2 linked regions of the Homo sapiens genome follow. The gene in region 1 interacts genetically with each later gene. Each region holds a gene or a part of one and is shown on either strand. Other genes may lie near its edges.

The links.
Region 2: changes in SSBP1 (region 1) and TIMM23B together harm fitness more than expected from each alone (negative genetic interaction), as found in Homo sapiens cells (one large-scale study listed by BioGRID).

What each region holds. Positions count from the first base shown.
Region 1 is NC_000007.14:141,736,871-141,741,450, reverse strand, and holds the start of SSBP1 (single-stranded DNA-binding protein, mitochondrial precursor), read right to left. Parts: upstream 3,094-4,580; 5' UTR 3,041-3,093; exon of another isoform or gene 2,858-3,040; intron 2,845-2,857; exon of another isoform or gene 2,453-2,844; intron 2,328-2,452; 5' UTR 2,285-2,327; coding exon 2,261-2,284; intron 1-2,260.
Region 2 is NC_000010.11:49,969,522-49,973,334, forward strand, and holds part of TIMM23B (mitochondrial import inner membrane translocase subunit Tim23B), read left to right. Parts: intron 1-520; exon of another isoform or gene 521-937; intron 938-3,490; coding exon 3,491-3,543; 3' UTR 3,544-3,813. UniProt on the Homo sapiens protein: May participate in the translocation of transit peptide-containing proteins across the mitochondrial inner membrane. the PAM complex.

The sequences.
Region 1 (4,580 bases):
TAACGAACAGCCAGTTAGAGGAGAGTCCCCAACCTCCAGGGCTGAGGACTAGTAGAGTTCTGTGGCCTGTTAGGAACCTGGCTGCACAGCAGGAGGTGAGCAGCAAGCAGCGAGCAAGCATTACTGACCAAGATCCGCCTCCTGTCAGATCAGCAGTGGCATTAGATTCTCACAGGAGCAGAACCCCATTATAAACCGCTCATGCGAGGGATCTAGGGTGTGCACTCCTTATGAGAATCTAACTAATGCCTGATGATCTGAGGTGGAACAGTTTCATCTTGAAACCATCCCCACGGCACCCCCCTCCTCCATGGAAAAATTGTCTTCCATGAAACCAGTTATCAGTGCCAAAAAGGTTGGGGTCTGCTGGTTTAGAGAACGAGAGATAGGTTACATTCCAACAAAACAATACATTCTAAAACTAATCACATGAATGACTTTCTGACACAGCAACAGGAACATATTCCAAAGTCAGATTCCCTGTGTCTATGAAACTGCCTTCCCCTGGTTGCTCCTTCAGACCTTAAAAGGAATTAGGATACCTAATATGACTAATCTAAAGTGTTTCATTTTAAAATAAGCAAAAATTATGATACATAATACCTACTTCACAAGGCTATTGCAAAAATTAAACAGCTTCAGTAGTGAGCTTAGCCTAATACAGTTTTTATAAATATTTCATAGGAAATTTCCTGTTTTTAGTGCATCAAAAAAGGTCTAATAAATTTGGTTCTTTGATTAAACACAAAGACTCGACTGTCCAAGTCAAAGTCACATCACTGTCAGCAAAGGTAGTCACTACCACATAATAGCAGCAATCATTACTGAATATCAGCTAAGGGATTTATCTATTATCAATTCTAAAACTAAATCTACAAGTTATGTAAAATTATTCCCATTTAGGGCTGAGAAAACACCTCAGAGAGACTGCATCACCTGCCCAAGCTCCTGCAGGAAGTATGTGGCAAGTGATCTCAAGGACCCAGGGCCCTTGACACCAATGCTACTGCTTTCCCGAAGCCCTCTGCTGCCTCCTTAATTTCAAGAGCTCCTGTAAAGATGGGAGTACACATCACTGAATTCAGAGCTCAGAGAGCTAGCCATTCTATCAGAGAAACATTTTTGAAGTGGCAGTACTGTTAATATAAAAAGCAGAAGTCCACCAATCAAATAAACACCAATCCCCAGGGTGCTGTTGGCTATCTAATCCTATCACTAAACTTAGGAGCAGAGGGCAGATAAGAAAATAAAGATATGAGTACAACATACTATAGAATCAAACTGCTAATGAGAACCTGTGTCATGATTCTGGAAATGTCATTTGAGTGCTCAGACAAGCTAGACCTCATAAATCTTACACAGAGATTTATAATAACAATGTCTCATTTGGGGCACACAAAAATCTACTGGAGAAGATTAGGAAAGGATTATTTAACTTGGATAATTTTTTAAATTAAACTTTTAACTCTTATTTAAAGACATTTTAATACTGTAACGTTAGTGTTAAGAAGCAATAACTTTTTCATGTTTCACATTTCAATACAGAAAAAAATAGATTAAAGATACATACAGGTTAAAGTGGGGATCCAAGAATATAGGATTAAGGTGGGGAAAATGACAGAGTCATGGAGGAACTGGTTCTTCATTGGTCTTCACAGGAGGATGGGGAGTAGGAGAGCCAAAGAAGAATCTACAGGAGCTGGTGCCCGAATGTGGTAAGTGAGGAAAAATGGTAGTCTAAGCTGGCTCAAGGTGGGCTAGTGTCTGGAAAAGTGAGGACCCATACTAAGTGGAATGAGAAGGCATTTTCTACATAGTGAAATCTCTGGTGACCACTGAGACTTGAGATGCTCTCTTCAGTGTGGAAAGATGGGGGAAGAGGAACGTTTAGCAACACAGGAGGTAGATGGTCAAAAAAGCAACTACATGCCTTAAGAAAAAAGTTGGAACAATGATTCCTACAGTCTTTAGGTCACTAAAGACCTTTAATGTCCTCTCACTGGTTAAATTCAAGCAACACACACACATTTTAAAAATTAATGATTCCTATTACGTGTGAATAAACCTGAACTTTTTTTTTGTTTTAGTGAACATAATTTACACTGGCAAAATCGTCCCCAATCCTCCATATCAAATGAGTATAGAGGTGGGTGGGTGAGCTCAAAGGTCTTTTGCCCCTGTAGTTAAAAGCCTAAAGAAGTCTTCTGATCACTGTGGCTGATAGTAATACATCTCAGTATTAATACAGACAAGTGACTACCTGTAATACAGGTCTTCGAAACATGGCTTCTATTTTCTTTTCTTACAGTCTAATCTTTAGGCTTTTCCTGAAGGAAAAAAACAAAATAAGAAAAAAACATTACCTCTTATGGCAAAAGTACAACTCACCAGTCCTAAATTCCTAACTATATTCATAATTTTTATGCACTCCAATTTTGTGACCACAACGTACCAACATTCCTGCACATCTGATGAGGATTCCTTCCTCCCTCCCAAATAAACTCACACCTGTATGTCTTTTTGGTCCCAAATAACTTCCTCTTCCTCCAACCCATCGACAAAATTTTGATTCTGAGTTAATCCCACTTCCAATCCACTGTCTTCTCAAATTTCATTACTATGCAAGCTCCCTTAGAGCAGAGATTTGTATCTGCTTTATTCACTGCCATTTTCTAAACTTCTAAAAAAGTTCTTAATGCATAGTAAGGCCTCCATAAATATTAGCATCACCAAGGGACTTATATCTGAAACCTGTTACTGAAAAATTACTGCCTTCATCTCCGTTAACAAAGACCAAGCAGCGTAGAGACCCCCGGGCTAGCCAGCCACACCATAGGGAGAGGTGGACACCCTTTACCGAAGATGGCGCCACCACCTGAAAACCGAGGAGAACTGGAAGGAAATCACGCGGTCCTCCGCACGACTGATGAAAGGGCCAGACACCTACACAGAAACACCTCCCGACCCACGCAGGATCACGCGCAGCCAAAACACACGACTCCAGCACTTCCTTCGCGCTGGCTATCCCTTCCTCCCTCACCTGACGATCTAACCCGAGCAGCCCAGCCACGCAGGGGATCACTTCCGGCGCACAGGGAACGCAAAGCTCGCCAGAGGAAAAAGGAAACAGAAACTCCGCAACTTGCGCCTTGGAAATACTGCCGGCTAGCGCTGCGGGAAACGGCTCCCCTTAACTCTGAAGTTCCGCGATCTTCTCTTTGTGCGCGGGCGGATGGATCAACGCCGCCAAGTGGTGAGTTTGGAAGGTTTCAAGTTTAGAAGGTTTCAAGTTTAGAAGGTTTCAAGTTTGGAAAGAAATGAAATTATGTGATGAGGTTTCTAACTGGGCCCAGGAGGGGGCGAGGTAGGCAAAACAGAGACTAGCTCTGCCTGGAGGGAAAAAAAAGCAACATTTGTGACCAGCCTAGGCGACATAGTGAGACCTGTCTCTACAAAAAATATATAATTAGCTGGGCGTGGTGGCGCGCGCCTGTGGTCCAAGCTTCTCCGGAGGCTGAGGTCGGGGGATCGCCTGAGCCCTGGAGGTCGTTGCTGCATTGAGCCGTGAACGCACCACTGCATTCCAGCCTGGGCAACAGAGCGAACTCTATCTCAAAACAAAACAAAACAAAACAAGAAAAAGAAAAAAAGAAGAAAATTAAAAAAAAAAAGAAAGAAAAAGAACGTCCCAGGTCTGTTGAAGCACTAAGAAAAGCAGAAAAAGAAAGGGGAGCCAGGGAAGGGCTGGCAGGCTGTGCAATTTAAGGGAGCACCAGAAAAACTGGCAATCAAATAATATATTAATGTAATATTTTAAAAAGTAAAAATTAATGCAGGAAATCCGGGAGGAACAAAATAAGAGTCATGTGTACCTTAACAACAGGGTAAGGTCTGAGGATTGCGTCATTAGGCGATTTTGTTGCTGTACGAACACCACAGAATGTACTTTGACGACCTAGATGGTGGAGCCTGGACACACCTCGGCTCTGTGGTGTGGCCTGCTGCTTCCAGGCTGCAAACCTGACAGCATGGGGCTGTACTGAATACCGCAGACCATTGTAATTCATGGTAAGTATCTGTGTGTCTAAACATATGTAAACATGGAAAAGGTACAGTACAAATGCGGTATAAAAGATAAAAATGGCACACCTGTATGGGGCGCTTACCATGAATGGAGCTTGCGGAACTGGAAGTTGCTGTGGGTGAGTAAATGAGTGAGTGGTGGCCCAACATGAAGGTCTAGGACATTATTGTACCCACTAAACACTTCATAAACACTGTACACTTAGGCTACACTCAGTTTATAAAAAATACTTTTCTTCCTTTAATAAACTTTCACTCACTATAACTTTATAAATCTTCCAAATTTTTTTACGTTTTAACTGTTTTGTAATAACAATTAGCTTAAAACACACACTGTACCACTGTACAAAAATATTTTTCTTATATCCTTATTCTACAAGCTTTTTTCTACCTTTGCTTTTTTTCTTTTTTTTTTTAACTTTTTAGCCATTTTTTAAAAAAACTAAGACATAAACACACACATTAGCCTAGGCCTACACAGGGTCATTATGATCAAT
Region 2 (3,813 bases), on another chromosome or scaffold:
AGCCTGGACAACATAGCTACTAAAAATACAAAAAATGAGCTAAGCATGGTGGTACATGCTACTCCCGAGGCTGAGGTGGGAAGATCACTTGAGCTTGGGGAGGTCAAGGCTGCAGTGAGCCGTGATCATGCCACTGCACTCCAGCCTAGGTGACCCTGTCTCAAAAAAAGAAAAATGTGGTATATACATAGAATATTATTCTGCCTTTAAAAAGAAAATTCTGGCTCTCCCTCTCACTCTCCCTCTCCCCACGGTCTCCCTCTCCCTCTCCCCACGGTCTCCCTCTCCCTCTCTTTCCATGGTCTCCCTCTGATGCCGAGCCGAAGCTGGACTGTACTGCTGCCATCTCGGCTCACTGCACCCTCCCTGCCTGATTCTCCTGCCTCAGCCTGCTGAGTGCCTGCGATTGCAGGTGCACGCCGCCACGCCTGACTGGTTTTTGTATTTTTTTTGGTGGAGACGGGGTTTCGCCATGTTGGCCGGGCTGGTCTCCAGCTCCTAACCGCGAGTGATCTGCCAGCCTCGGCCTCCCGAGGTGCCGGGATTGCAGATGGAGTCTCGTTCACTCAGTGCTCAATGTTGCCCAGGCTGGAGTGCAGTGGCGTGATCTCGGCTAGCTACAACCTCCACCTCCCAGCCGCCTGCCTTGGCCTCCCAAAGTGCCGAGATTGCAGCCTCTGCCCGGCTGCCACCCCGTCTGGGAAGTGAGGAGCGTCTCTGCCTGGCCGCCCATCGTCTGGGATGTGAGGAGCCCCTCTGCCCGGGCTGCCCAGTCTGGGAAGTGAGGAGCGCCTTTTCCCGGCTGCCATCCCGTCTAGGAAGTGAGGAGCGTCTCGGCCCGGCCACCCATCGTCTGAGATGAGGGGAGCGCCTCTGCCCCGCCGCCCCGTCTGGGATGTGAGGAGCGCCTCTGCCTGGCCGCGACCCCGTCTGGGAGGTGAGGAGCGTCTCTGCCCAGCCGCCCTGTCTGAGAAGTGAGGAGCCCCTCCGCCTGGCAGCTGCCCTGTCTGAGAAGTGAGGAGCCCCGCCGCCCAGCAGCTGCCCCTTCTGAGAAGTGAGGAGCCCCTCCGCCCGGCAGCCGCCCCGTCCGGGAGGTGGGGGGGCAGCCCCCGCCCGGCCAGCTGCCCCGTCCGGGAGGGAGGTGGGGGGCAGCCCCTGCCCCGCCAGCCACCCCATCCGGGAGGGAGGTGGGGGGCGCCTCTGCCCGGCTGCCGCCCCGTCTGGGAGGTGGGGGGCGCCTCTGCCCGGCCACCCCTTCTGGGAAGTGAGGAGCCCCTCTGCCCGGCCGCCACCCCATCTGGGAGGTGTACCCAACAGCTCATTGAGAATGGGCCATGATGACGATGGCGGTTTTGTTGAATAGAAAAGGGGGAAATGTGGGGAAAAGATAGAGAAATCGGATTGTTGCTGTGTCTGTGTGGAGGGAAGTAGACATAGGAGACTCCATTTCGTTCTGTACTAAGAAAAATTCTTCTGCCTTGGGATGCTGTTGATCTATGACCTTACCCCCAACCCGGTGCTCTCTGAAACATGTGCTGTGTCCACTCAGGGTTAAATGGATTAAGAGCGGTGCAAGATGTGCTTTGTTAAACAGATGCTTGAAGGCAGCATGCTCCTTGAGAGTCATCACCGCTCCCTAATCTCAAGTACCCAGGGACACAAAAACTGCGGAAGGCCGCAGGGTCCTCTGCCTAGGAAAACCAGAGACCCTTGTTCACATGTTTATCTGCTGACCTTCCCTCCACTATTGTCCTATGACCCTGCCAAATCCCCTTCTCCGAGAAACACCCAAGAATGATCAATAAATACTAAAAAAAAAAAAAAAAAATACTGCAAGAACATCTGCCCCAGAACTGCCTGTCCAACCTGGACTGACATCATCCTTGTTATTGATCTTTGTAGCCAAATATAATTATTTTAAAACAAACAAAAAAAGAGAATGTAAGCAGTATAAGACTTTAAAACACACAAATGAAATATACATGACTACATGCTTCAGTGAACTAAAACTTTCATCTGTGATCTTTATTTTGCAACATTCTGAAGTAACATTACAGTCTTTTCAGTGTGCTGTGTCATTTATATCCCTTACTTTATCCTAGGAATCCTGTATTGCCATTGAGCATATGCAAATTGAGACATGTGCATAGCTTCTCCCCGTTGAGCCCATCAGTGGGGAGGAGCTATGTACCGGGGACATTTGGCAAAGATTTTCATGAGTCTCTTGGATGTAACAGCTCCTTAAGAAAACCTCAGTTTACCTTCCCTATTTTTTACCATTTGTAAAACTAAGGCTCAGTGATGTAAAATATAACACATTCTGTGCTGTGGCATAACTGCAGCTTAGGTTTTTATATTCAAGACAAGCAGAGGTATAGCTGAAAAGGTATGAACACTTACTATGCTTCAAGATCCCTTCGTTGGTTTAGTTGTGGCATTTTAGAACAGCTGACTTGGGACTAAAGCATCTTTCTATCTGGGATCAGTATTTCTAAGTTGCCTTTAAGCTGAATAAACATTTGGTTTTTATATTTAATTGCTTCGATGTGAAACACTGCAATTTAAAAAATTACACATATGTAATATAGTATTTTACACTAAATAATAGTGACTGGCAGTCCACTGGCCGAAGAAGTATTATTTTTCAGATATTCTGCTCTGTCATCAGCTGTAGACACTGACAGGTATTTATCTGGAAAGGCTTGCTGTCAGGGGTTCACAGTGCTGCTTGTGGGTTATCTCCAGACCCTTTACATTCGGCACTTTAGGACAGCGTGAGTCACAGGTTGCACTAGAAGTTGCCTTTGAAATTAGACCTAAACTATGTGGAACTGGAACCCTTGTACACAAAGCTCTCTATCATCCAAATCCTGCTGAACTCTCTTAGGAAAGAACAGTTTTACAGATTCATTCTTTCCACACACAAGATTTCCCCACTGCCCAGTTACTCTCACCTTTTTATTTTCTTGACTGTTATGTTTTACTTGACTCTGGAATCTTACCTTGTACTCTCACATTTACATGGAAGTATAGCTTATTTCACCAATTATACTATCAAAAGCAGAAGTAGTTACTTACACCTGAAAATTTGTACTGAGAATGTAGCTGTGAATATGTTTAAGAAAGTATACTTAAAGCACAAATCCAAGGAAGTATATTTAAATCAAAGCAAGAAATCCCATTTCCAAATGGCAATAAAGCATGTGTTACATAGAATCAGTGCATGAAAGTGTTTTAGTAGCCCAGATTAGATTGTACCCTGGCGAATAAGCAAGAGTTCTTTTTCATTTTCATCTTGCAATTCAACTGGGTATTTGGGTTCTTTTTCTATTCACTCATGTCAGATAGAGACATGCATGTTGTAAATTATTTTGTCAGAATGAAAGCCTGGCAGATTAAATGCTTTCTTCTCTTCTTGCTTTACTTGATATCAATCTCTTGTTCATTTCTTGATAATATGTTTGGTTATTTTTGTTTTCATTGCTTTTAGTGTCAGAGATGGCTTTGGATTCCCCGTTCTGTGTGCTGCTGTCTGGCTCCTGAACCCAGCTGTAGAGGTGTGTGTCAATCCCAACTGGTGAAGTACTGAGAAGAAGCTACACAAAAGGCAGCAAAGTATTAGTAAGTGTACCTCTGACATTTTAACCACCTCTGACTTTTCCATGGAATGGACAAGTAGTAGTCTCTGTCAGAGCTACATTTTAAAGGAGAAAAAGAAACGTGAAGTCATGAACTGTTTATTTATGCTGTTATTTTTGTGTTTACTCACCTCATTTATATTGACTTGTAAATTAGTAATTTCTGAACTATTAT